Homo sapiens: one gene and its partners. The protein of the gene in region 3 purifies or fractionates together with the protein of the main gene of each other region. This does not show direct contact. Each region holds a gene or a part of one and is shown on either strand. Other genes may lie near its edges.

The links.
Region 1: the proteins of SLC24A3 (region 3) and DPY19L1 purify together in Homo sapiens (affinity purification with mass spectrometry; one large-scale study listed by BioGRID and IntAct). This does not show direct contact.
Region 2: the proteins of SLC24A3 (region 3) and SLC30A6 purify together in Homo sapiens (affinity purification with mass spectrometry; one large-scale study listed by BioGRID and IntAct). This does not show direct contact.
Region 4: the proteins of SLC24A3 (region 3) and PGAP1 purify together in Homo sapiens (affinity purification with mass spectrometry; one large-scale study listed by BioGRID and IntAct). This does not show direct contact.
Region 5: the proteins of SLC24A3 (region 3) and UBXN8 purify together in Homo sapiens (affinity purification with mass spectrometry; one large-scale study listed by BioGRID and IntAct). This does not show direct contact.
Region 6: the proteins of SLC24A3 (region 3) and TMED5 purify together in Homo sapiens (affinity purification with mass spectrometry; one large-scale study listed by BioGRID and IntAct). This does not show direct contact.
Region 7: the proteins of SLC24A3 (region 3) and FAR2 purify together in Homo sapiens (affinity purification with mass spectrometry; one large-scale study listed by BioGRID and IntAct). This does not show direct contact.

Annotation. Positions count from the first base shown.
Region 1 is NC_000007.14:35,027,314-35,031,146, forward strand, and holds part of DPY19L1 (protein C-mannosyl-transferase DPY19L1), read right to left. Parts: intron 1-3,833. UniProt on the Homo sapiens protein: C-mannosyltransferase that mediates the C-mannosylation tryptophan residues on target proteins.
Region 2 is NC_000002.12:32,207,197-32,211,029, forward strand, and holds part of SLC30A6 (zinc transporter 6), read left to right. Parts: intron 1-2,296; coding exon 2,297-2,365; intron 2,366-3,700; coding exon of another isoform or gene 3,701-3,765; intron 3,766-3,833. UniProt on the Homo sapiens protein: Has probably no intrinsic transporter activity but together with SLC30A5 forms a functional zinc ion:proton antiporter heterodimer, mediating zinc entry into the lumen of organelles along the secretory pathway.
Region 3 is NC_000020.11:19,719,513-19,723,630, reverse strand, and holds the end of SLC24A3 (sodium/potassium/calcium exchanger 3 precursor), read right to left. Parts: intron 2,641-4,118; coding exon 2,491-2,640; 3' UTR 705-2,490; downstream 1-704. UniProt on the Homo sapiens protein: Calcium, potassium:sodium antiporter that transports 1 Ca(2+) and 1 K(+) in exchange for 4 Na(+).
Region 4 is NC_000002.12:196,923,694-196,928,262, forward strand, and holds the start of PGAP1 (GPI inositol-deacylase), read right to left. Parts: upstream 3,015-4,569; 5' UTR 2,924-3,014; coding exon 2,777-2,923; intron 1-2,776.
Region 5 is NC_000008.11:30,742,622-30,747,022, reverse strand, and holds the start of UBXN8 (UBX domain-containing protein 8), read right to left. Parts: upstream 2,860-4,401; 5' UTR 2,834-2,859; coding exon 2,746-2,833; intron 2,696-2,745; coding exon of another isoform or gene 2,563-2,695; intron 1-2,562. UniProt on the Homo sapiens protein: Involved in endoplasmic reticulum-associated degradation (ERAD) for misfolded lumenal proteins, possibly by tethering VCP to the endoplasmic reticulum membrane. May play a role in reproduction.
Region 6 is NC_000001.11:93,159,649-93,163,481, forward strand, and holds part of TMED5 (transmembrane emp24 domain-containing protein 5 isoform 1 precursor), read right to left. Parts: intron 579-3,833; coding exon 481-578; intron 1-480. UniProt on the Homo sapiens protein: Potential role in vesicular protein trafficking, mainly in the early secretory pathway. Required for the maintenance of the Golgi apparatus; involved in protein exchange between Golgi stacks during assembly.
Region 7 is NC_000012.12:29,327,013-29,330,845, reverse strand, and holds part of FAR2 (fatty acyl-CoA reductase 2), read right to left. Parts: intron 1-3,833. UniProt on the Homo sapiens protein: Catalyzes the reduction of saturated but not unsaturated C16 or C18 fatty acyl-CoA to fatty alcohols (FAls). A lower activity can be observed with shorter fatty acyl-CoA substrates.

The DNA of each region.
Region 1 (3,833 bases), on a different chromosome or scaffold from region 3:
TTTGTACTCTCCCAGGTGGACTGCACAGCTATTTTCTGAGAATTTTGTTTTCATTTTGATTTTCCTGCTCCCCGAACTACAAAGCCTTGGTAGGTTTGGCAGTTTTAATTTGTTTTCTATTTTGAATAGGGAAAGAAATCTATTTTGAATTGGAAAAGAAGGAATGTACTCTATTAATAGAGATATTGAGTTTCAAAGTGAGAAGCAAGATTGCTTTTAAAATTCAGTCATGAAGGCCGGGCTCCATGGCTCACGCCTGTAATCCCAGCACTTTGGGAGGCCGAGGCGGGTGGATCACCTGAGGTCAGGGGTTCGAAACCATCCCCGGCCAACATGGCAAAACCCCGTCTCTACTAAAAAAAAAAAAAAAAAAAATTAGTTGGGCATGGTGGCACATGTCTGTAATCCCAGACACTTGGGAGGCTGAGGCAGGAGAATCGCTTGAACTTGGGAGGCAGAGGTTGCAGTGAGCCAAAATTGCGCCATTGCACTCCAGCCTGGGCAACAAGAGCAAAACTCCGTCTCAAAAAATAAATAAATAAAAATAAAATTCAGTCATGATCTGAAGAAACTACTGCCCCTAGTAAGATCTAGAAATCAGTGGTCTACATGATGATGGTTTTAAGCACAACTTTAGTTAATCAGAATCTCCTCCATATATTTTGCATTAAGCAAAACTGTGCTTTCCAACAGTTAAGAAAAAATTAGAAAACTTAATTACAATGAAAATGTCTAACATCTGTTTGTCAGTTGCAGTTTAGAGAGCCCTTTCACATATTAAGCAAAAATGATCTAGGGGTGCCTTTGAGGCAGATATGGGTCTTATTTTCCCATGAGGCTCAGGGGCACATGACTGGGATACAGCAAGGCCTGGAGGAGAGCTGGGTTTCTCTGACTCCAAGCTCAGGCTCGAAGATGTTAAGCACATTCAACGAAGAGGATGCACTAGCACACAGGAGGAAATGCCTTAGAAATCACAAGAGCATCAAGGACAAAACGATTTATTTTAAAGTGAATACAGTATATGAAAACAGGAGAGCATGGAAAGTATATATCACCATCCCAAAGCGGAATATAATTAGGCTTCTAAACAGAGAAATACACTAAGTAAATGTTCACATATTTTAAATATGTATATATGTACAGATATTAAATTAGGCAATACTTAATACAACTACTCAACGTAAGTGTTTTGAAGACAATAAATTCTAATTTCCCTTAAAAGTCTTATCCTCACATAATATGAATACAAATGTTACCAGAAAACGGTCCTGATCCAGACTACAAGACAGAGTTCTTAGATCTTGCAAAAGAAAGAATTCCGGGCGAGTCCAAAGCAAGTTCATTCAGTAAAGGAATAAAGAATGGCTACTCCATAGGTAGAACAGTTTGGGCTGCTGGACTAAGGATACTTATAGTATTCTCATACTTATGGTTATTTTTTGATTATATGCTAAACAAGGGGTGGATTATTCATGAGTTTTCTGGAAAAGGGGGGGACAATTCCTGGAACTGAGGGTTCCTCCCCTTTTTAGACCATATAGCCTAACTTCCTGACATTGCCATGGCATTTGTAAACTGTCATGGCACTGGTGGATATGTCTTTTAGCATGCTAATGTATTACAGTTAGTGTATAATGAGCAGTGAGGATGACAGAGGTCACTTTCATCGCCATCTTGGTTTCAGTGGGTTTTGGCTGGCTTCTTTACCGCATGCTGTTTTATCAGCAGGGTCTTTGTGACCTGTACCTTTTGCTGACCTCCCATCTTATCCTGTGACTTAGGATGCCTAACCTTCTGGTAATGCAGCCTGGTAGGTCTCAGCCTTATTTTACTCAGCCTCCATTCGAAATGGATTTGCTCTGATTCGAATGACTTTGACGCAAACATTTCAAAATCAAACAGTAATCTACATTAGTAATTTTCATAAAGTAACTTTCTTCTTATTAAAAAAGTGCATTTTATTGTTTTAAGAACAAATGGCTAGATAAGATACACAACCAAGATAATATGATCTGCTTCTGAGCATGCATAGGGAAGCTGTAAAACTTTAGTAAACCTAATGGAAAAAGTGTAGAATCTGCATCTCTCCACTAGAGTAAAAAGAGAACCACACACACCTACAACACACGTCCAGGCCCCATCATATTCAGCAAGAGATTTAACAAGTTCATTAACTGATAACCCATTCCAATGGTAAGATATGCATTCCCCTCAAATTGCAAGCTTCCCCTGGGTATCACAAATCTTGCTTATCTTTTAAGTGACTAAGAAAACTGTGACAGTTTTTTACTATTTTACTGTGTTGTTATATCATTGCCAAGCCAACCAACACAAAAAAATTCAATTAAATAGTTTTCAAAAATAATCATATAAAAAAACCCCAGAGACTGACAGGTTGACCATAAAGATATAAAAGAGTGATTCCCCCAAATGACCAGAAGCCAGTAAAGCTCTTGTCAAAAGAGCTCTAGGGTCATGGGACACATGAGGTCAACTTCCCACTAATGTGCCTTTGACAGATGCCTTAGACTTTAGATCTGAAACCTACAATTTTACACGGATGTAATTAACAAAGACAAGAGAACTCAACTTCAATCCCAAACTTCACCTGCTGAACTCAATAATTACATTGGGCCATTCACCTGGCCCTATTTTAGTTTTCTCACCAAGAAAATTCTAAGAGGGTAACCTTTAAGTTCTACATTTTTATAACATTCCCATGGATATGAAAGATGAGAAAAGAGTGAGAAATAAGGTCTCATTTTCAAAAAACAACAACAACTTTTTAAACTTAGCGGAAAACAATTACATAAGAACTTTATGATTAATATGAAAACCCGCAGAAAAAGATTCTGCTGTTGACAACTCCAACACTGAAAAGCTATATTATAAAAAGTAGTAATTACTGTTAGGAAATAGGAAAAGTATTTGCCCAAAGGGCAGAGTAGTAGCACTTTGGACAAATTTTAGTATTAAAAATATTAATAAAGCCTCGCTCTTCTCAATTACAACAATCTCCCTAAACTAATAATTTGTCTAGGTAACAAGTTTTCAAAAGTAACTGGTCAAGTGACTTATAAACTGTGTTTACAATTAGTGCTACTGTAAACTAGTAGATAAAATCACACGTTTTCATGATCAGTACAATAAACCATACTAGAACTTCTGTAAGTGGTCTTGGTGACAGCTACGCTATTATGTTAACAATTGCTGCTTTAATAAAGTTAAAATTACAAAATGCCATCCAAACATTCTTTATGTGATAGTGATCGTGCTGAAAAACACACCTGACAATCAGCCACAAATATGGAGAAAGATGCCAGAAAAACACAAACAGCTATTAAGAGCTCTCAGGAAAAAAATAATAGTGAGAATGCTGAGAAAATAGAAAGCAGTATTAAAGCACAAAATCAAGCTACAATAGTTGTAGATTTATGTATTCTGAAAATAAATTATTCTGCTTTTTAAATGTATTTATATTCAGTGATTCTTGACTGAATTATGAAAGGTCCTCCATGGAGAACTGATCTTCCCTATGAAATGAAACTGCCCTTTATGAGATTAAACAACATCTAGACCCAGATATAGACGTAATTTTTACTAGCTTTGATGACTAGTAACCATTATAACTAAACAGTTCTAACAGTAACTAAATAAAACTAGCAGCCTCTTCCCCTGGAAGAGTAATGTCTCAATGGTTTGGCTGAAGTACAAGCTGATGGCAAAAGAACTAGCAAAACAGGAATTTAGGATTAAACATATGAATAATAAAGCCTAAAGCTACCCCATTTGGAACTATGTACACAGGTTTATGGTCTCTATGACAATGT
Region 2 (3,833 bases), on a different chromosome or scaffold from region 3:
TTTATTTTATTTAGTTATTTAGTTATTTTTTTTTTGAGACAGTCTTGCTCTGTTGCCAGGCTGTAGTGCAGTGGCGCAATCTCAGCTCACTGCAACCTCCACCTCCCAGGCTCAAGCAATTCTCCTTCCTCGGCCTCCTGAGTAGGTGAGACTACAGGCGCGTGCCACCATGCCCAGCTAACTTTTTCTTTTTTTTTTGAGACAGAGTCTTGCTCTGTCGCCCAGGCTGGAGTGCAATGGTGCCGTCTTGGCTCACTGCAACCTCCGTCTCCCAGGTTCAAGTGATTCTCCTGCCTCAGCCTCCTGAGTAGCCGGGACTACAGATGCAAGCCACCATACCCAGCTAATTTTTGTATTTTTAGTGGAGACAGGGTTTCGCTGTGTTGGCCAGGCTGGTCTTGAACTCCTGACCTTGTGATCCACCCGCCTCGGCCTCCCAAAGTGCTGGGATTACAGGCATGTCCACAGCGCCTGGCCCGCCCAACTAACTTCTGTATTTTTTTTTTTTTTTTTTTTTTTTCTGAGATGGAGTCTCGCTCTGTCGCCCAGGCTGGAGTGCAGTGGCACAATCTCGGCTCACTGCAACCTCCGCCTCCTGAGTTCAAGTGATTCTTCTGCCTCAGCCTCCCAAGCAGCTGGGATTATAGGCGCCCACCACATGCCTGGCTAATTTTTGTATTTTTAGTAGAGACAGGGTTTCACCATCTCGACCAGGCTGGTCTTGAACTCCTGACCTCGTGATCCACCCACCTCGACCTCCCAAAGTGCTGGGGTTACAGGCATGAGCCACCAGGCCCGGCCTAACTTTTGTATTTTTAGTAGAGACGGGGTTTCACCATGTTGGCCAAGATGGTCTCAATCTCTTGACCTCGTGATCCACCCGCCTCGGCCTCCCAAAGTGCTGGGATTATAGGTGTGAGCCACCGTGCCCAGCCTGTTTTTTGTTTTTTTTGAGACTGAGTCTTGCTCTATCACCCAGGCTGGGGTGCAGTGGCATGATCTTGGTTCACTGCAACCTCCGCCTCCTGAGTTCAAGCGATTCTCCTGCTTCAACCTCCTGAGTAGCTGGGATTACAGGCTCCCACCACCATGCCTGGCTAATTTTTGTATTTTTAGTAGAGACGAGGTTTCACCATGTTGGCCAGGCTGGTCTCGAACTCCTGACCTCAAATGATCCGCCCCTTGTGACCTCCCAAAATGCTGGGATTACAGGCATGAGCCACTGTGCCCAGCCTTTTGTTGTTTTTTTAAAATATATATATAAAAAGAGATGGGGTCTTGCTATGTTGACCAGGCTGGTCTTGAACTCCTGCTCTCAAGCCATCCTCCCATCTTGGCCTTCCAAAGTGCTGGGATTACAGGCATGAGCCACTGTGCCCGGTCAAATGCTGTGATTTTTTTTTTTTTTCCAGGGGGTACAGGGTCTTACTCTGCCACCCAGTCTGGAGTGCAGTGCCGTGTTCTCTGCTTCCCACCGGCTAATTGTTGTACTTTTTTAGTAGAGACAGGGTTTCGCCATGTTGGCCTGGCTGGACTCGAACTCCTGGCCTCAAGTGATCTGCCTACCTCAGCCTCCCAAAGTACTGGAATTGCAGACATGAGCCACCATGCCCAGCCTAGACTTTCTTTTAAGTTGTTACAAATTTCCACCTACTAACTAATGAAGAAATAAAATAATGAACTATTTTGATGTTGAAACTATTTTAAACCTTTGATTGTCAGTGTGACAGAGGCCACTTTTACCAGTATAACTGGCTACTACTCTCAACTAGTGAAGCCTGGCCTTGAGTATGTGTCCTGTGCAACTGTACCAGTGGGCTACACACTATATATCTGGCCTTGGAATTTCTTCTAGACTCACATCCAAACAACATCCTGTGTTGTGCAGAGATTTGTTATAAGGGATTTCAGAGAAAGAAGTGATTGAGAAAACAAAAAAATTAAGTAAAAAATCTGATACCACAAAGTGCTAGATATAAATATATTCCATATTGATATGAAAAGAACCATACACTGTTGAAGAAATTGGTTGGGGTAGGGGTTTAAAACTGAGCAGTGGGGACCTGATTCTAAAAGAATTGGGGCAAGCAAGAAACGAGGAAAGCAAGGTCTTGGGTCAGTATGGAACAAACAGGAATGGTATCTTGAGTGGTCTGAGACTTCTCTTAGCTAATGAGTGTCCTTGTGCAGGATTTGGCTGTCATTCTTAAGTTTAAACTAAGTCCATAATGTGACTAAACTGCATTGGATATGTTAAGTACAGACAACTCTGATCACCTCTTTCTGTTTTTGGTAGGTATCTACCTTAGATGGAGTTTTAGAAGTCCGAAATGAACATTTTTGGACCCTAGGTTTTGGCTCATTGGTATGTTCTTTTACATATGACTTTAGTTATAATTTAAAATATAGTCTTCCATTTTTAAAACTGAAAAAAAATATTTCCTTAAAATTTTTATAGAGCCTTTGATTCCTAGTTATGTTAAGCAGAGTCTAAAATGTACATGAATTCAATTACCTAATTGAGGGATTTTTTGGTGTTTAGAGACAGGGTCTCACTCTGTTGCCCAGGCTGGTGTTGAACTCCTGGCCTCAAGCAGTCCTCCCGCCTTAATCTCCCAAACAATAGAGGAATGTTTTTATTTTTTTTCCATCAAACATGTTAATGATAATAATACAGGAGTGTCCAGATAAGACAAATTTGTAGTCAGTGTAATTTCCAAATAAGAAAATGTTAAAAAAAATTAAAAGTGCAATTGCTTTCTTTTTTAACTGTAGTTCTCATTTTGGAGAGTTTGCTGAATATTTTGAAGAACTACAGTAACACAACTTGCTTCAGCATAAAATTTCGTATTTTCTAATTCAGTTTGAACCTCAATACCAGAGAGACTTTATTATGACACGGTTTTACTCGTACGTTAGGAATGATGAGGAAAATACAGAAAATGTAAAGCACTATAATCTTATCATCTAAAGAAAACTGCTGTTGATATTTTGGTGTTTATACATTTATTTTCCTTAGAAAATGAGATCACGGGCTGGGCGTGGTAGCTCACGCCTGTAATACCAGCACTTTGGGAAGCCGAGGCGGGCAGATCACCTGAGGTTGAGAGTTTGAGACCAACTTGGCTAACATGGTGAAACCCCATCTCTGCTAAAAATACAAAATTAGCTGGGCGTGGGGTGTGGCACACGCCTGTAATTCCAGTTACTCGGGAGGCTGAGGCAGGAGAATCTCTTGAACCCGGGAGGCAGAGGTTGCAGTGAGCCGAGATCACGCCATTGCACTCTAGCCTGGGTGACAGAGTGAGACTCTGTCTCCAAAAAAAAAAAAAAAAAAAAAAACAACAGAAAATGAGATCATGCTGTTTTATAATTAGCTCTTTTTGTTTAATTAATTTATCATGAACAGTTTTCTATGTCATTAAATACTCTTCTACAGTATCATTAAAAAAAACAGATAGGGTTTGATTTTTCTAATATAACACAAATTTTATAGATAAACAGATCAAAGCTGGTCTAGCAGTTCAATGATATTACCCACTTTGCAGTCTTTAGTTTCAGGCTATGCTTTTGTAGTGGGAAAATGGTTGCTTCACCTCCACCTTCCCCAACTCTTTCCCTCTCTCATTATTTTGGATGTCTAAAACTTATTACAAGAAAAACTTGAGACTGTAACATCCCCTCCCTCCTTACTGGGAAGGTGCCAAATGACCAGAGTGTCAAGAGACCAAAGAATGACTTGGACAGGTCCAGCATGGCCAGTAGGTGAGTTTGTTAGGAGTTACCTATGGGGCACTCCTGGGAAGCAGGACAGCTTTAGAGATCTACCCACC
Region 3 (4,118 bases):
TGCCCTGTGTCCAGGGTATATTTGTAAAATATACAAATATAGTAATAAAACATTTGAAGATGGAAACACTCAAAACATGCTAAGTATCTAGTATTCCTCCCACCTTGGGAATATATATTTTTCAACAGTTAAATAAAGTTGGTGCTGTGGATTAGTGGCTATTTTTCTTCTGCCTCTTATAAATGAATTATGCTGCATTTCTGGTGGAAGCCTAGCTCTCTGTGTTTACTAATTTAGATGTGGGTAGTTATTTCTTGAGCATCACCTAGAATCAGATCATGGCTTATTACAACTATGTTATTGTCACTTTTAAGGAATCAGCTTTGGGGAAATCTTAATTTTCACGATTAAGAACTACTAAAATCAGACAGAATGGAGAACTTGGCCACTCCAGAATGTCATCATCAGTACTGTGATGCTCCTTCTCTCATGTTCAATGGAAAGAATGAATTCTTAACTAATGTATTCTAGGACGGGTAGAGTTCTGGAATTCTGTGACAGGATGATAGGCCTAAAGTCCCTTCAAGATTTAGAGGGGACCCACAGCTGGCCACTTCATTCTCGTAATCTGCCACACGTACGCCAGCTTTCCAGGTGAGGCAACGCAGAAACAGCAGGTGGCAAATGCCTGGCCACATAGTGACTACAATCATTTTACCTCCCATACATTCTCCTCAATGAAAAATGCACAGCTTTCCAGGGGAGAAAGTAATGCACTCTGCTCTGGGAAGGATAGAGAACAGAGAAGTTTATTTTACACTATCCGTCCAAGAAAACAATCGCCATAAACCAGTGCAAAATGTGCAACAGAATCAATAAGTGTGTCTTAGCTCTGAGAGCCCAAATTGGTGATTTCTTCTCCTGTTCCTCAGTTGGGCACGTGCCCCATCCGTTAATGCTGGTTCGCACCACAGACAGAAACATTCAACCAATTTGTAGCAGGTTATTTTTACAAATTCATACCAGAATGTGTACAAGGGACAGGGAAAACCATACCGAATGAATGATAAGTGATCAGTGCTTAAAGTAAATACAAGGGACAGCACGGGCAAGAATCCACAGTTTCAATAAATACAAGTGAACAAGCATGGTGTGTCTCAACTGGGTGGAATTAGTCTGCATAATAATTCAGCATCATACAAAATCTAGCAGGGCTGTTGAGCAGTGATTGGCAAAAACGTTCACAATAACTTATGCCCTTGAGCGAGTCTGCATGTAACACATTCTGTGGTTTCAAAGGTGTCAGTTCTCTGTTTTCTCCTTCCCTGGCCATCCCTCCAGGAAGGGAGGGGTGCAGCTGGGCCGGCTTGGCGGAGGCGCCCCGTGAGGAAGGACGTTTGCCCAAGAGCCAGTGGTCAGGGTCCAGTGTACTCAATACCAAGTGGCAAATTGGGACTTAATTGACGACGTCTGTGCAAAGTGCGCTTCTCTCCATTTTCCAAGAAACCAGTGTCTGTAACTCCTGCATGAAAAGCAGTGGTGGCCTCTGGGTCACTCCCTGTCACCCCAAATGCCAAACAACAAGAGCACATCTCAGGGACTCACAAGTCGGGGAAGCTTCTGTTTTTGACTGCCTGGCAGCTCATGGATGGGTAGTTTGTTTAACTGGGGCCCCCTTGTCCAAGGCAGGCTAGAACTATTGCTTGAAAACTAGAAAGAACCTAGTGAGAAAGAGATGGTGATGATGGAATGAGGGAAGTTGTCTTCTTCCTCCAAAACCTTGTGCCCCCCCAACCCCAGGGGACGCCCATAAGACTTTAGCGAGGCGTCCTTGGCTATAAAATGTCATGCATTTGTTCTTGGTGGCCTTGCCCAGTGGCTCCTCTAAAAAGCACTACATCCATGCATACTCCAACACATCTGGGATGCAAGCCCAGACAACACGGCAGGTGCAGCCTTTGGGTAATTGATTAATCCAGAGCCCAGTGGAAGAAGATGCAAGAGAAGCTCTTGATCTCTGGAAGAAAAGGAGTAAAAGGGGAAGGCCCCCAAAAGAAAACAATCCCCCCAAACCCAGTAACCTAGGCATCATCTCCAAACCAAACAAAATCCCAAATGCTCTCTGTAATCAACGGGCCCCCTCCTCTCTATTTCTTCAACAGTCTCAGGTCACAAATTAGGTGAGTCTTCCATCAAATAACTTAAAAAAGGAGGAGGGATTGGAATCAGTGTTGCCTGGCTCAGGCCAGTTAGCAGCCAGTTTTTCTAGAATCTCAGTCACTGTTCAAAAATGGAGCTGGAAAAGTCACGTGGATGTTGGATGTCTTCACACGGAGGAGGCAGGAAAGGGTGGGTGGGCATGACCCAAGGAGGTGGGGGAGCGAGGATGGGTCAGGGGAGAGCCTGGGCCACCAAAACAGGAGCGGAGGCCTGAGGACAGCACAGGAGAGACGAACGCCGTGGCCCCGGGGGCCTGTGTGACTCGGGGTGCGGCCGGGTCTCGTATTGCACAGAAAAGAAGGAGCTGAGCCTCTGTGGGCACCCGGCGGCTCAGTGGTCCCCGCACATGGGCAGGTTCACAAAGGTGAACACGTTGAACTCAGTCATGATGGAGAAGCACAGGAACACACCATACAGGAGGAGGCACCCACAGCCCAGCTTCTTGTCCAGCTGCCACTTGTTCAGGTGGACGCCGAACACCTGCAGGGCACAGAACAGGTTCAGAGGGCACCAGGAGGAGGCAGCAGCCTTTGGGGGGTTGGTAGGGGAACCCAGGGGACCCGGGGAAGGGCTGCTGACTATGGGCCTCGGGCAGGGTGCTGATCCTCTCTGAGCCTGCAAAATCCACCTCTCGTCTCAGATTGTGGGAGGTGAGAACATCAACATCAGGAAGAAAGGAAGCCAGAAGCTGCTGGTTGTAGAAAAATAACTAAAACAAATGGCAGGACTCACAAGCACATCCCAGCAGCCAACCCTCTTTCACGAAGCTCCAACTCCACACCCCTGTGGGCCCTTCATCTGTTCTGGGCCTTCCCCATCTTGCTTTAAGCAGGCCCCCACTCCCCTGGGGACACTGACCCCTCAGTCCTCAGGCGGTGGCGGCTGCATCTCTTCCTACGGCTGCGTCTGGAGGTGAGAAGTTCCTCCCTCCCCACAGCAAATCATGGCTGCTTCCAGACCATTTTCCTTCTCTCCTCCCTAAAAACACTGAGCCTGGAATCTCGGTTCTTCCCACAGTTCCTCTTGGTTCTGCCTGTTGCAGCCAACGATGTAACCCCGGCCACTGCCTATCCTTGAAGCTTTCCGCCCGGCTCTTGCCACTCTCCACTGCACTCCTGCTGACTTTCTCTGTGATTTCAATGCCTCCAGAGGGGAGAGGGTCTTTCCAACACCCTGCCCCATCAAGTCCTCATCCTTCATCTGGCCTCAGCCACTCACACCCACCAGCCTATGTGCTACCCAAATTTAAATGAAATAAAATTAAAACACAGCTCCACATTTCAAGTGCTACAGCCAACCATAGCCAGTGGTACTGTCCAGCCCAGGTGTAGGCCATTTCACTGCAGAAAGGTCTGCTGGGTGGCACTGGGGCCTAGATGTTGCTATTGGCAGTGACAGAAGCATCTGTCTTATCTTAGTGTCACTCATCCCACTTTCTGACTCAAATCTCTTCCTTTCTAGCTTACTCCGCCTGATTCCCCAGCTCCCACAACTCTGCAAATGCCCATAGCCCACACCTCATTGATACCATCACCACTTCTCTAGGCTTCACCCACTTTGCCCGTTTCCTTCTCTCCTTCCTCTGATTCAATTCCACCCACACTCGCTGGAGTCACTCCGGGGCATCCACCCTGATTCCCTGGCCTCTCTCTTGCTTGGTTGTCCTTGCTTGGCTAAGCCATAGCCCTTCAGTTCAAGCCAAGTCCCAATCTGGTTCATGCTGCATCCACGCAGCTGTCCATCAGGGTTGGAGGAAATCGGTCAGCCATGCGGATGGGTCTTATTTTAAATTAGAGACCACTGACATTAAGTGGGTCATTCATGCTTTTCAGCAGGCATCTCATCCTTCCCTAGTCCCTTGTCTCTCCCTTCCCCAGACGGCTACTTCACACCTCTCCCCTTTCTTCCAATCTCCGACACTCACTTCCCCGTCCTCACTTATCCCCACGGCACAGAGC
Region 4 (4,569 bases), on a different chromosome or scaffold from region 3:
ACTGTCGCCCCGCCTGGAGTGAAATGGCACAATCTTGGCTCACTGCAACCTCCGCCTCCCTGGTTCAAGCGATTCTCCAGCCTCAGCCTCCTGAGTACCTGCGACTATAGACGCACGCCAACATTTCCTTTCAGAGAGCAACCGTTAGGTTACACATACGAAGATAGCCAGACAAATCACTGTATGAGAGAAACAACTCAGACGTTTCTTCTAAAATTCTGCAATTTGCCTAAAACCATTTGCTACCAAATAAAAGTTTTGCCTTGCTGTCGTAATAGGGCAAGAAGCTTTAAAGGATAAAGTATATTTTGCCTAGTAGGCTTGAGATATGGGTTCGTGAGATGTTCAATTAACTCTGAATAAGTGAATCTGGGAAAACCAGAGGTAGAAGATGAATAGAGATAATCAAACAATTTTAAATTCAAAACTTCATTTTTGCAAAGAGTTTCAAATTTATGCCCCATCTTTTAAAAAAATGGATAATAAAACTGAATGTGTTTCAACCACCTTTCTATTTCTGCTGGCTAACTAAAGAAGATGCAAATGAGCAGTAAAAAAAAAGAAAGGCATCAAAAGAAAGAAGAAAACCCAATGACTAGGACATCTCACATCTGGGTATCAACCTGTGAACAATTAGAGAGCTGACTATAAAATATAATTAAAAGTAAGCAATATGTAAAATATCTTTAAAACATTTTTATTCATGAAAGCCATTTGGTTCTCAACAGAATGGCCTCATTTATCCAGAAATCTCACTATGTTCAAAATGACTCATTTCTATAGGCTGGTTTTAATTGTATTTGTAAGATAACATGACCTGGTATGCAAAACAAAAAGACTTAAGAATACAATATAAATACTATCATGAATTAACACAGCTTTTTACATCATAAAAACCTGCTAAAAATCAAAAACTTCTGCCACTGTGATTATTACTGTATTAGCAAATTATTAATAGAAGTGTAAAACCCCAAAAAAGCAACTTAAACCAAAATAACTAAACCTAGACTACTCAACAACAATAAAAACCCAAAGAGCTCTTTACCATTAGCTACACTAATTTTCTGTTTTTCCAGTCAATTTATGAGGCAGGAAATGCGTCTGTGAGATCCATATGCTTTGTTCCCAACGCTAAAGAGAACAATTTCTACTTCTGTGAATATTAAAATAGCTTCAATAATTGTAGGAAATCTAAAAATAAATGGGAATTAGTACTGTACTGTCACAAAATGATTTTAACCAAACTCTTCAATGCGGTACAAAACTAAAGTGACCTACTTCAATCTATTGGGAGTTTCCTAATTATTAAACCAAAAATAAGGAGGGAATTATAATAGCTCTATTTTCAGTTTTTTAAAATACTAAACTAAAAAGGTTTGCTTAGAAATGAACAGAGACGACAGTAACATGTCAAAATCTTCTCCTTCGATAGCATCCCTACCAAATGTTTCCACTCTCTTATCATCATAAATGCAAAACCAAGGTAAGGATCTAAACACAAATGAAATCTAAATTTACTAGAATTTTTCCCATGGGAAAGAATGCTCTTCAGCAATTTAAACCTTAAGTAGTCTTAAGATCAAAATAATAGCAGCGTAATCAAGTAACAGGCTTCCTCCATAATGACTTGTACAAAGAAGCAATCAGGACTTGCATCCTTCACCCTAAAAAAAAAACTGCTGTGATTTTAAGAGTATACTAAAAATGTATTTTATCAATATATGTTATAGTGCATATACATTTTATGGTAGGGAATTATTACAATAGGTAGTCCATAATTAAGAGATGCACTTAGAAATAAAAGAATCATTCGGAAAAATTCTCTTAGGACAGTTGTGTAATTTGTCTGCGCCTCTTTTTACAGCTAGTCATGAATGAAATTCTAGATCCTACTATGCCGAACTAACGAAGCCATTGATTGAAAACATTCAAAATGGCATGGAAGCGGTAGGGGTGGAGAGAGAAGGGTTGGCTCTCTCTTAAACTCCGAACCCAGCGAGAAAACAAAAATAGCACCATGAAATAGATTTTGTATGCAACTATTAAGAGGCTCGGCTGCTGAGAGACATGCATAAACACAGGTATGCACACACACAGGCAAGCCCACACACGCACGGCCCCTTAACCTGCAAAATAAGAGGATCTGCAACATCTTTCCAAGAGGGGATCTAGTTTCCAATTCAATGACTCGCCAGTTTACCCATAGGCAAAACCCTGGAGTCTCTAAAAACAGCCTTGGGAACTATCTAGCCAATATACACTCTGCAGACGCTCGGTCCCTTTCTAGAAATGCGAAATCTGACGAGCAGATCACCGGGCGCGAGGGGAATTTAGGCGCGTGGGAAGCAAAGGAAGGTCCTGGGGCACGGGTTAAGGCAAGAACGCGAGAGGGATGGAGCTTCGGTTTAGGGAGAAGGGTTGAGGCTGCCTCTCTGGGCATGAGGGGGGCTGGGCCCGGCCAGTCAGAAGAGCTTGTGCCCAGGATTTGGGGCTGGGGAGGAGGCGGAGGGACAGCGGAGTAACTACGAGGACGACCACGAGGATGCTCTCGGGAAATCGTCTAACAAACACCCCACCGTGAAGAAGGGACACAAAGGGGAGGTGAGGGGGGCAGAAGGGGGATGCAGAGTCTCCCCGGGCGGAGAAAACAGAGGCGAGGACGGGACAGGGGGCCCGAGAGGCGCAGAGAGCCAAGGCAGGACGAACCCACAGAAGGAAAAAGGCACCAGGGGCCAGAGTCTTGGAGCGCCCGGCTGAGGAGAGGGCAGAACCTTACCTGATACTCCGGGTACTCAAACATGTAGCTCATACTGCACTTATTCTCCTCGAAGCCGAAGAAGACATCCCACAGCCCCAGGGTTGCCAGAAAGACCATGAAGACATAAAACGCCAGGTTCCAGAGATTAACTGAGTGAAGAAACATGGTGCCGCCACCACCGCCGCCGCCGCCGCCGCCCCCTCTACCTCCTTCTCCGCCGCGGGGCCCCAAGCCCGGACTGAGCGTGCTAGACACTGTCCGACCGCCACCCCCGGAGCCGAGCCCCAGCCGCGCGCGCCTGCGCTGATGCCCGGCCTGCCCGTTCGCCAGCCGCGCAGTGCGCCTGCGCGCACCAGGTCCGCGGCGCCTCTGGCCTGGCGACTCCCAGAGCCGAGGGAGGAGTAGGTGTTGCAGCGCGAGCGCGGATCTACGGGAAAGAGAAAGAGGGAGAAAGCAGGGTGGGCTGGGCTGGAGGGTGAGGGGAAAGAAGGGAAGTGGGGAGAGAAAGACGCGAGGAGTGGCTGGCGGGAGGGAAAGAAGAGAGAGAGAGGAAGCATCCAGAGGGGGATGGGCGGAGCGCGGGAGCCCTGGAGACGAGCCGGGGGATTGGGCAGGAGGCGGGTGTCAGATGGGTGAATCTGGGGAGGGGACTAGAGCCCAGAGTCCAGAGGCGATTAAGGACCGAGAGCGGACCGAGAGAGGGGAGGAGGACTTAAAAGCCCAGGGGTCATCAGCTGTCACCTCGCAAACGCCTCTCCCTGCGGCAGTTTAAAAACGCTTCCCGTTCAATTTTGAAAAGACTCAGGCCTCCGCAATTTCGGTTTTCCCAACGGTAGTAGAGCACACTCACAGCTCTCTGGAGCAGTTAGCTTGAAGAGGGAACAAATGGCTTTATTTTCCCTCTTCTACCGCCTACTTGGGCCCAGTAGGTAACAGCGCTTAAAAGCACCGGCTCATTAAAAAAAAAAAAAAAAAAAAAAAAAAAAACACCCGCAAGCCGACGAGATTCTGCTCTTGGTATCAGATGAAAGCCTGAATCACAAAAAGCATCGTTAGTCCTTAAAATATGTTACCAAAATATCTATTAGCACTGACGTCCCCAACAGGTATCTGCGTAATCAGTTTGACGCTGACTCGCCTTGCTCTCCAGAACCTCCATCTCTTGGGGAATGGGTTCCACGTTAACTGGAGGAGGCAATTTCGTCCAGCTTCCATTCAAACTCGCAAATGACTTAATTCGTTTTGAAGAATTTCGGTTCTGTTTTGTACAAAGGAGGAGTTTTTAAAAAAAGCTCGAAATCAATCACTTGTAGCAGCTTCAAAACACTAGAATGTTAGGAAAAAGACATCACTCTTTAAAGCTGACTCAACAGTAGACGGTGTGTGTGTGCGTGTGTGTGTAGTAACCACAGGATTCTTAGAATGGTCTTTGGCACTAAATGAATTTCATTGAACTTGGGCTGATTTTCTGGTATATTTTCTGTGCAGAGGAAGTTTGGCTACAATACATAAAATCAAAGAATTTTAAAACCAAAAGGAAGCTTATAGTTTATCTTGTACAACACCCTGATGTTCAGATTACGAAACTATGAAGAAGAAGTGGAGTGATCCTGAAAATCAAGATAGTCTTTACCCTGCACAGAAACAGTTGCAAGTCTAAACAAACACAGCTAGCTACGGAATGTGGAGTATTGACGGAGAAAGACAGAAATGGGAAAATGCGGAAGCAGTCTCCTTTTTTGTAGGGAGATAAGTCTGGAAAGACCAGGATAACAGGGGAGCTGTAGGTGGTACTGATCAGGAGGGCAATT
Region 5 (4,401 bases), on a different chromosome or scaffold from region 3:
CCACCATGCTCCGCTAATTTTCGTATTTTTAGTAGAGACAGCGTTTCACCATGTTGGCCAGGATGGTCTCGATTACTTGACCTCATGACTCGCCTGCCTCGGCCTCCCAGAGTGCTGGGATTTTTTTGTGTACTTAAACTATAGACCCCATAAGCAGTGTACTTCAACGTGAGGAACTGGCCTTAAAATATTTAGCTTAGTCAGGGCGCGGTGGCTCACGCCTGTAATCCCAGCACTTTGGGAGGCCGAGGCGGGTGGATCACAAGGTCAGGAGTTGGAGACCAACCTGGCACAACATACCGAAACCCCGCCTCTACTAAAAATACAAAAAAATTAGTCGGGCATGGTGGTGCATGCCTGTAGTCCCAGCTACTCAGGAGGCTAAGGCAGGAGAATCGCTGGAACCCAGAAGGCGGAAGTTGCAGTGAGCTGAGACTGCACCACTGCACTCCAGCCTGGGTGACAGAGTGAGACTCCGTCTCAAAAAAAAAAAAAAGAAAAAAAAAATCTAGCTTAAGTACAAGTAAAATGTATTGACAATAAAGGTTTTTACACAGTAGAAAAAGACAAGGCTAGTTTTTCAATATATGTCTGAATATCAGTATAGGCATAACCAGCCCTGCTGCTGGTATAAAGTATGATGTATAAAACAGACTTAAATACTGTTAAGAAATAATTATTGGAAGCTCACTATCAAGAATCCAAAGGTAGCAGAAAAAAAAAGGAAAAAATATATATTAAAAAAAGAAAACTGAAAAGAGGAAACAATCCAAAGGAAACAATCATTCGTTCAGAATTCTGAGAAAGAAGCTAATCCCATGAAAATTTCAAGAACTAGATAAAGATGCTGCCAGGAGCCCAGGTGCAATTTATAGAACCCTTGTCCCTAGTTCTATTAAACTAGACACTGGTAAGTGCTGGGAATACAAAAACAAATTCCATTTGGTCTCTGCCTTCAAGAAGCATATTTCTGGCTGGGCACGGTGGCTCACACCTATAATCCCAGCACTCTGGGTGGCCGAAGTGGGTGGATTGCTTGAGCCTAGGAGTTCCAGACCAGCCTGGGCAACATGGCAAAACCACATCTCTGCAAAAAAATACAAAAAATAAGCAAGGCATGGTGGTGTGGCCCCTGTATTCCTAGCTACTCAGAAGGCTGAGGTGGGAGGATCACTTGAGCCGGGAAGTCCAGGCTACAGTAAGCCATGACCGTGCCACTGCACTGCAGCCTGGGTGACTGAGCAAGACCTTGTCTCAAAAAATAATAAATGAGCAGAGTAGGGGTGGATGTTGAAAAGACAAGGGAACAGGTGAATTGCGGAAATGGTGAGTGTGAATTCAACATTTCTGATCCTTTGGATAAAGGTCTTGTTATATTCCAACACAGCTTGAGTGAGTGAGAAGCTTCAGGACAGTCTTTGTACATTTTTTTAAAGCATTTTATTTTCATTTCTTATTGCACGCAACATTTCTAGGCATCTGACTCCTTGTGAGCAGGGAGAAAATGTGGAGAAAGAGAGGGAGTACACAAAGCCAAGTTTCATTATGGTCTCTAACTTTAGAATTGACCTTAAAAAGGGAGACAGACATGTAAACTGATCACTGAAATGTCCAAAAATCAACTCATGATTCTCAGCATCTCCACAGTTTTTCTTTCCATTTCCCCTTTACCAGTAGCACTACCAAATACCTAGGTTTGCTCAGTCCCCCATGAGGCAGTCGTCCTTGAATCCTTCCTTTCCCTTGCCCCAAACATCAACCCATAAACAAAGCCTGTTGGTTGATCCTACTCCGTCAATATCCCAATTCTGTCTACATTTCATCTCCTGTTATTGTTCTAGTCCAGGCCATCATCACCACTTGTCAACTTCCAAAGCCTGATGTGCCTCACTGCTTCCACCATAGCTTCTGTCCAAAGCATTCTCCATACAGAATCGAGTGACCTTTTTAAAACTTAGGGAAGTCACTTAACCTCCCTAAATTTTAGTTCCCTCAACTGTAAAATGGGGATTATAATAGTGCCTACCCTCCTCTGATTGCAGTGCAGATTAAATGAGATAATAACCAGCACCTGGTGTTTGGCTTATAATAGGTGTTCAATAAACGTCATTATCCTGAGCCAATTCCTCCTCCTCCTCCTCCCAACTCTCCTTGATTCAGCCACAATGGCCTTCACCTTTTCCTCCAACGTGTCACAATCTTTTTGCCTAAAATATTCCTCCCCTCCCCCATCCCTTCCCTGCCCCCACTGGCTTTTCACGGGCGTGGCCCCTTATTTAAACCTAGGGCCGGGCGCAGTGGCGTAGGCCTGTAATCCCAGCACTTTGAGAGGCCGAGGCAGGAGGATCTCTTGAACCCAGGAGTTCGAGACCAGCCTGGGCAACATAGTGAGACCCTGTCTCTAAAAACAAAACAAAAAACTTCTCAGCCTAAATTCTCACAAGACCTTCATCTTATCAACCTGTTTATTTCCTTTTCAGTGTTCGCCAGGATGCGAAAGCACTGTCTATGATTGCCCCTGTGCTCTTTGCCTCTACCCTCTTACACGTAAAACCATCACACCTGGAGGGAAAAGGTTCCTCGAAGTGAAGTCAGCTCCGGAAGTGGGGGGGCAGGGGCGATGCAGTCTGGGAGTTGTAGTCAAAGCTGCTCCGAAGCCACGCAGCCGAAGAGGCGGTCGTTCTATGCAACATTCCTGTGAAAATTACCCAGCTGTGACTGTCGAAGGGAAAAAGTCACACTTACCTATATCCGGGATCCCACGCCGGAGCTCCAGACACACAAGGGGGACAGCAGAGAGGAAGAAAATGCCAACAACCCCACGTGAAGCCATGGTGGCGGAAGCGCCTGGTGCAGGCGGAAAGCCCGCCCCTTCCGGCCGCGTTTTCCGGGAAGGAAGTGGAACTCTTCTTGCCGCGGGCCGGCTGGGAGAGGGTCAATAACGTGGTAAATACTGACGGCCGTGTCGTTATTGAGGGGGAGCTAAGCCCCGTGTTTTAAAGTTATAGTCTGTAGCCGTGTTTCAGAAGAAAGGCAAGTCGTCCCCCAAGTCACATGATGTCCAGAGGAGCCTGGGCTCTAGAGCGGTGGCTCCCTGGAGGGTAGCAGGGCAGGGGCTGCCCCTTCGGTCTTTGCAGCGTCTGTGAGAAAGCGCTTTCCAGAGGGAAATGAAGCCGAAGAAAAAGCTGATGCTGTGAGGAGGCAGCCTGGGCCCCCCGGCCTTGTGGCCGTATAGGATGAATGTGGGCTATAACACCTTCCTTATCTCCCTAACGGTTCCTGGTTCCTGGCCCCGTCCGCAGTCTCTGGTTCCTGCGGAAAGACAACTCGAAAGTGGGGCCTGGCTCCAAATACCTGCCCCCTAACACGCACGTCCTAATGCCAGGTCCTGGAGACCCGCTACCCCTTGTTCCGCCCCTTTTCAGTTTTGCCTGCACGCGTTATTGTTAACCTTGACTTCATAGTTCCATGACCTCATTGCCGTCCTATAACTCACCACTGTGCACTTCTCCCAAGCTACTGAGGTCCTCCCAATCTACAACATTTCGTACTTGGAAATTATCTTTCCTGGCCAGGCGCGGTGGCTCACGCCTGTAATCTCAGCACTTTGGGAGGCCGAGGCGGGCGGATCACAAGGTCAGGAGTTCCAGACCAGCCTGGCAAATATGGTGAAACCCCGTCTCTACTAAAAATACAAAAATTAGCCGGGTGTGGTGGCGGTCGCCTGTAATTCCAGCTATTCGGGAGGCTGAGGCAGGAGAATTGCTTGAACCCGCATGCGGAGGTTGCTTTGAGCCGAGTTTGCACCACTGCACTCCAGCCTGGGCGACAGAATGAGACCCCGTCTCAAAAAAAAAAAAAAAAGAAAGAAAGAAATTATATTTCCTGGCTAAGCGCGGTGGCTCACGCCTGTAATCCCAACACTTTGCAAGAAAAAAGAAAATTCTTTTTCCTGACCCATCCATCTAGCATCCCACCTGACTATTCAGTTTAGTTCATCTGAAATTTATTGAGCTCCACAGTTTGGTACTCTACAACTCTTGGATATTCAAATATTTACAAGTTACTGAATTTGTCCTCAAGAAACTCAGCTTATCCGACTTTGTGGTTCTATGGAGAAGAAAAAAAAAAACTGGGAAAGATAGCCCTGTAAGCAAATAAACATAATGCAGTTCCTGAGTGCTATGATAGAGATATACACAGGGTGTTGCAGAACCATACCCAGAAGGCTTGCAAAAGGCTTTCCAAAAGGAAGTCACGCCTACGTTGTGTTCAAAGGTTAGGAATCTGGGCAAGGATGTCCGGGAAGGGTGGGATTTCAAGTTTAGGAACCTGAGTGCAAAGGAACTACCAGTGATTATTGCTGCAGTTTAGAGCTTGAGGCCGGGCGCGGTAGCTCAC
Region 6 (3,833 bases), on a different chromosome or scaffold from region 3:
TAATTACCTAAAACGAATGAGGTCTGAATAAAAAAAAAAAATTTACGTACACACAAAGATATACTGTCCTGTTTTAAGAAAGAAAACTATGGACAAAAATGGCATATAGCCAGCAGCTCAAGAAACTTTAAGACATATACCTGGAACAGTAGCTTTAAGTTAAAATAGAAAGCTTGTGCTGGCCAGAAGGCAGGTTTAAAATGCCACGATAGATTGAATGGAATACCAGGGGAATACTAATTTACTAACCAAAGCACAGAAAAAATTTAGCCTGGATCAAAAGAAAACGCTTAAACAAAAATAGAAAGGTTAATGGAAGATGTTTTTGTTTATCAGATGGCACACTATCATGAACTGTTTTAAATCATATGGAATTATCTAATATTGATATGTAGTATCAAATGTGCTAACTTTCCATGCCCTGCAGATAACCCACTGGTATTATTCAGCAATGAAACTCAACTAAAAGAGATTACTTACGTGTGAACTCCATCTGATTTTCTTTGTTCAAAAACTAAGGTTTTGCCTTCTGGAGAGGCAAGATGGAAATCAATATCTAATCCTGCTCCATCTAAAACCTGTAGAAAAGCATACATGAGAAAAACATATATTACAAATTCTGGAAATAAAAAATTATATACAGTAGATCATATGATGTAAAGATTATCTAAGCTAGAGAGGTAAGAAAGTCATCAGTGATGTCTGAGCTAGAAAAGAACCAAAAGATCATCTAGTTCAATTCCATTCATTTTTGGAACTTGTCCCTTCCTTACCCATTTCTCTCACCATCACCTAAATTTAGGCCTTATGGATATTACTGAAATAAATCTTCCTAAAATAGTGGTTTCATTCAGAATCCCTGTAGAATGGACGGAAACACAAAGAGCAGTTCAAATGCTGGGCGTTTTAGTTAAAACTTAGGCAATTGGCAGGGCGCGGTGGCTCACGCCTGTAATCCCAGCACTTTGGGAGGCCGAGGCAGGTGGATCATGAGGTCAGGAGTTCGAGACCAGCCTGACCAACATGGTGTAACCCTGTCTCTACTAAAAATAGAAAAATCCCAGCTACTCAGGAGGCTGAGGCGGGAGAATCGCTTGAACCCAGGAGGTGGACGTTGCAGTGAGCCGAGATTGTGCCACTGCACTCCAGCCTGGGCGACAGTGAGACTCGGTACCCCGCCCCCCCTGCCTCCCCTGCCCCCCCAAAAAAAGACTTAGGCAATTTCAGACATTGTATATAACTTTTTTGTTTCCTCTTCAATAAAAGAATAATAATTAACTGTTTCTTAGCCTGGAATTCAAGACCACCATGGTGTGGACTCCAACTGACTTCAACACATTCTTCTACTACTTCCCAGTATGAATTGTGTATTCGAAGCAGGCCGGTTCATTTACTAGCCAATGAATACAATCTATCCATTTGTAATTCCAAAATGTCCTTCTATGAAGATGATGATGATAATCATGGCAACTAACAATTATAGTTGATGCCATAAATTGTCTTAAATGCTTTATGTGGATTAATTTATTCCTTATAACAACTCTAAAAGGTAGGTCCTATTATTCTCATTTTAGTAAAAAAACAACAAAAACTGAGGCACAGAGAAATCATTTTTCCAAAGTGACACAGCATTAATTCATCTAGGCCACATTAAAAAAAATAAGTAAAAAATAAACCAAAGTGATACAGCAAATAAGTGACATGGTCAAAATTTGAACTCAGCAATCTGCCTCTAGAATAATTTTTAATAAGTATGCTGTGTTGCCTCTATTTCTGTTCCATTCTCCTGAATAGGTACTCATCCAATTGTATTCATTCTTTAAGAGCCAGTTTAACCCATTTATGCCTTGTGTTCCATTAGTGGAACACTAAGCATGTAGGAGTTATTTATATCCTACTGCTCAAGGTCATTGCCAAGGTCTCATTTTGCAATTCAAAAAATTGCAACCTCCTGCATAAATGGGTCAAGTCCTTTGAAATCTCCTCTGAATCCTCCTGTCCAGTTCTCTCACACTCTCTCTTGTATTACTACAGATTGCACACCTATCCTCTTTGGCACTTATGAGACGTTCTCTGGAATCTAAGCATCTTTTTGTAGGATTCACTTAGCATAAACTTGTAGGTACCTTTATGGACACCTATGTGGCATATCCAACATAGATGATAAGATGGATGAAAATTTTGTTCACTATTTTTATAACTCCAAGGGTACTGGTCCTAACAATGTTATTATCCATATTTTGATTTTTTGTCACAGATGCAAATATTTAATAAATGCATCTTTTTATCATCCTATACAAATTAAAGTGTCTCAGTGTTTTCCCTGTAGATCTGTCTGCAAACTTCTCTTCCTGTCTTCCTCTTTCCCTGCGTTTTCTCTTCTGTATTTATAGTGTTTGCTAAAATTTTAAAAAGAATCTATTTGGAACACTATATAGTACAGCCTTTTAACTGAAAAAAAAAAAAACCTAACTCAATGGCTACTCTTTTTCTTAACACTCCATTTTATTTTTCATGGTAGTTTTAATGTGATGATATAAAAAATTACCTACTCCTGTGCTTTTATTGTTCAACAGAACTGGTTTCAAATGGCTGGCTAAATGTACATAATTTTCTTCTTTAAATCCCAATGAAATGAAGAAGACATGTAACAATTAAAATCTATAGGCTGGGTGCGGTGGCTCATGCCTGTAATCCCAGCACTTTGGGAGGCCGAGGCGGGTGGTTCACTTGAGGTCAGGAGTTTGAGACCAGCCTGGCCAACATGGCAAAACCCCATCTCTACTAAAAATAAAAAAATGAGCCAGCCATGGTGGCACACACCTGTAATCCCAGCTACTTGGGAAGCCGAGGCAGGAGAACTGCTTGAACCCAGGAGGCGGAGGTTGCAGTGAGCAGAGATCATGCCACCGTACTTCAGCCTGGGCAAAAGAATGAGTGAGACTCCACGTCAAACAAAAACAAAAAACCCACAAAGAAGAAAAATTCCTGTTTCAAAAGATGAAAATCTTCAGACAGAAAGGATCTAATAAATGTGAAGCAGGATAAATGAAAAAAGACCATAAAATATGGAGTTTTCCAAAGGATTTAAAAAGTACAATCTTCTATCAAAGAGAAGTAGCAGAAGTAGTAGAGAACTGCAAAATACAAGAATTGGGATTAGCATCAGAATTCTTACATATAACATTAGATGGAAAAAAATAATGGAGCCATGTAGTCAATGTTCCCAAGTAAAAAGATATTTACTGACATGAAAGCAAAAATAAAGCCATTTGCCAGGTGTGGTAGCATGCACTGGTATTCCCAGCTACTTGGGAGACTGAGGTGGGAGGACCACTTGAGGCTAGGCGTTAAAGCCTGTAGTGTTCTATGAAAGTGCCTGTGAGTAGTCACTGCACTCCAGCCTGGGCAATACAGTGAAAACCCATCTCTAAAATAAAATTTTAAAATAAATAAATAAAGTTATTTTCAGATATCCAAGGACTCAAAACATTCTCAAAGAATTACTCAAGGATACCCTCCAAAAACAAAAAATATATATATTAAATCAGAAAACAAGCAATGTAACAAAGCTAAGAAAAGATTTCAGTAAAACAAAGTTAAAAAGCAGTTATTGGTAGTGGCTGTCAGGCTTAATGAAATTGTGAAAAATGATTTTTAAGACTATGGAAGGTTAATTAAAAAATCATAAAATATACTTTTTTTTTTTTTTTTGAGACACAGTCTCGCTTTGTTGCCCAGGCTGGAGTGTAGTGGCGCGATCTCAGCTCACTGTAACCTCTGGCTCTCAGGTTCAAATGATTCTCCCGCCTCAGTGTCCTGAGTAGCTGAGA
Region 7 (3,833 bases), on a different chromosome or scaffold from region 3:
TTTGATCGAGGCTTAGATGGTACCAAATAAAAGGCATATATTATCAAAACCAAAAAGCCAATCACCACTAAAGGTCAAGTTTGTTAACTTTAAAATGGCTACACGATTTTCTGAGAATCTCTTGGGTTTAATTCATAAATTGCATCTTTCCTCCAGAGTCTATATTTAGCTCTTTTTCTCTTCAGGAAATATTACACTTCTAAAGAATGTAATTGAATTTGACATCTTAAAGATTTAGTAGTTCTCTAAGGCTACTCGATTCTTTCTCCTTTATATGCAAATTAAATGTTATATTTTAATCACAGAAAACCATCTTAGAACTCGGAGGAAAGTAACTAAATATTATTATCCCTATTTAACATTCTAGGCATTCAGTAAACATTTAATAATGAGCCCTTTGCTGATTCATTGTGCATATTGCTTTTGCTTTATCCTCTCAACTTGCATGGAGAAACATGACAAGAAATAACTTTTTAAAAATCATAAATGGGCCAGGCGTGGTGGCTCATGCCTGTAATCTCAACACTTTGGGAGGTCGAGGCGGGCAGATCACCTGAGGTCAGGAGTTCAAGACCCGCCTGACCAATATCGTGATACCCCGTCTGTACTAAAAATACAAAAATTAGCCAGGCGTCGTGGCATGCGCCTGTAGTCGCAGCTACTTGGGAGGTTGAGACAGGAGACGCGCTTGAACCCGGGAGGCGGAGGTTGCAGTGAGCCAAGATCTTGCCACTGCACTCCAGCCTGGGCAACAGAGCAAGACATGGTCTCAAAAAAAAAAAAAAAAAAGTCATAAATGTATTTGCTTTAGATAACTTTTTCTAATTCATTCTTCCTTTTGAACAACGAGTCCTATGAAACTATATTTTCCTTTTCACTTTACTACCAGAAAGCTCAAGAACAAATTCACTGCTTAAATTAACTACAGCAACTTAGTAGGATCTTGTAGATTATGTATGGGCATTCTCTTTTTAAATTTTTAGCTGTGACTTCATATTCTGATTCATATTTTCCTTGGTTTTGCATTTTATTTTATTTCTATTTTGTTCTTTCATTATATGTATTTTTTTGCAAGATACCTCAAACCTTTGTGAGATTTGGAGTATTAATAAAGAGAGCAGATGCGATTGTTCCAGAGAGCTTCAAAGACTTGTCCAAAAGCTGAATTGCTTTTTGAAAGAAATTCCATTATCACTTTGATTGGATATGGTTTTCATAGTATCATTAATATTGCTTAGTCATTCATATAAGCAGAGGCTTTTATTTTTATAGTGTTTAACATTTCTAAGTTTGATTTCAAAGTGGCCCTGTTCAGAATCCTGATTCCATATGGCAATTCAAACTGAATTTTGAGCCACACCAGAATTTGGTAATTACATTTAGTACTATTACTTTTGCTAAGATATTTTTGAGAGCATATGTTAAATCCACTGAAGCTTTGATTCTTTTTCATAAAATTTTGAAAGGTTAAAATAGTAAAATGTCAGAAATGAAACCAAGCTCATTACCTTTTGAGTTATTTCGGCAGGAAAATTCCATGGAGAAAATACATAAGGATAAGCCTACATAGAGTTTAAAGCTAAATTTTAAAAGAACTTACAATAGCTTGAATTTGTTGATTTGTTTTTGATTTATAAACTGGCTTAATCATCATTTCAAACACTAGTTTGAAGAATTTTGTCTATATGTGATATGTAAACATTTCTGAATAACTATTTCATGTCACTTTGAGAGGGAGCAATGATTTCAGATAAAATATCCCTCTAAATCTTGCCTTTTGTGCCTAATATAATATTTATTGTATTTGACATGGATAATGCTTAGGAAATAATTCTAGGGCTTGGATTTGAATCACACTCAGTAAGTTTGGTATGTAGAAGTGAAACCCTTAGCTGGCAAGCAAGGTCAGTTAGCCATCTGATATATTGTTTTTTTTTCTTTTTTTTAATTATTATTATATTTTAAGTTTTAGGATACGTGTGCATAACGTGCAGGCTTGTTACATATGTATACATGTGCCATGTTGGTGTGCTGCACGCATTAACTCGTCATTTAGCATTACGTATATCTCCTAATGCTATCCCTCCCCCCTCCCCCCACTCCACAACAGGCCCCGGTGTGTGATGTTCCCCTTCCTGTGTCCATGTGTTCTCATTGTTCAATTCCCACCTATGAGTGAGAACATGCGGTGTTTGGTTTTTTGTCCTTGCGATAGTTTGCTGAGAATGATGGTTTCCAGCTTCATCCATGTCCCTACAAAGGACATGAACTCATTTTTTATGGTTGCATAGTATTCCATGGTGTATATGTGCCACATTTTCTTTATCCAGTCCATCATTGTTGGACATTTGGGTTGGTTCCAAGTCTTTGCCATTGTGACTAGTGCCACAATAAACATATGTCTTTATAGCAGCATGATTTATAATCCTTTGGGTATATACCCAGTAATGGGATGGCTGGGTCAAATGGTATTTCTAGCTCTAGATCCCTGAGGAATCGCCACACCAACTTCCACAATGGTTGAACTAGTTTACAGTCCCACCAACAGTGTAAAAGTGTTCCTATTTCTCCACATCCTCTCCAGCATCTGTTGTTTCCTGACTTTTTAATGATTGCCATTCTAACTGGTGTGAGATGGTATCTCATTGTGGTTTTGATTTGCATTTCTCTGATGGCCAGTGATGATGAGCATTTTTTCATGTGTTTTTTGGCTGCATAAATGTCTTCTTTTGAGAAGTGTCTGTTCATATCCTTAGCCCACTTTTTGATGGGGTTGTTTGTTTTTTTCTTGTAAATTTGTTTGAGTTCATTGTAGATTCTGGATATTAGCCCTTTGTCAGATGAGTAGGTTGCAAAAATTTTCTCCCATTCTGTAGGTTGCCTGTTTACTCTGATGGTGGTTTCTTTTGCTGTGCAGAAGCTCTTTAGTTTAATTAGATCCCATTTGTCAATTTTGGCTTTTGTTGCCATTGCTTTTGGTGTTTTAGACATGAAGTCCTTCCCCATGCCTGTGTCCTGAATGGTATTGCCTAGGTTTTCTTCTAGGGTTTTTATGGTTTTAGGTCTAACGTGTAAGTCTTTAATCCATCTTGAATTGATTTTTGTATAAGGTGTAAGGAAGGGATCCAGTTTCAGCTTTCTCCATATGGCTAGCCAGTTTTCCCAGCACCATTTATTAAATAGGGAATCCTTTCCCCATTTCTTGTTTTTGTCAGGTTTGTCAAAGATCAGATAGTTGTAGATATGCAGCATTGTTTCTGAGGGCTCTGTTCTGTTCCATTGGTCTCTATCTCTGTTTTGGTGCCAGTACCATGCTGTTTTGGTTACTGTAGCCTTGTAGTATAGTTTGAAGTCAGGTAGCCTGATGCCTCCAGTTTTGTTCTTTTGGTTTAGGATTGACTTGGCAATGCGGGCTCTTTTTTGGTTCCATATGAACTTTAAAGTAGTTTTTTCCAATTCTGTGAAGAAAGTCTTTGGTAGCTTGATGGGGATGGCATTGAATCTATAAATTACCTTGGGCAGTATGGCCATTTTCACGATATTGATTCTTCCTACCCATGAGCATGGAATGTTCTTCCATTTGTTTGTATCTTCTTTTATTTCATTGAGCAGTGGTTTGTAGTTTTCCTTGAAGAGGTCCTTCATATCCCTTGTAAGTTGGATTCCTAGGTATTTTATTCTCTTTGTAGCAATTATGAATGGGTGTTTACTCATGATTTGGCTCTCCATTTGTCTGTCATTGGTGTATAGGTATACTTGTGATTTTTGCACATTGAGTTTTTATCCTGAGACTTTGCTGAAGTTGCTTATCAGCTTAAGGAGATTTTGGGCTG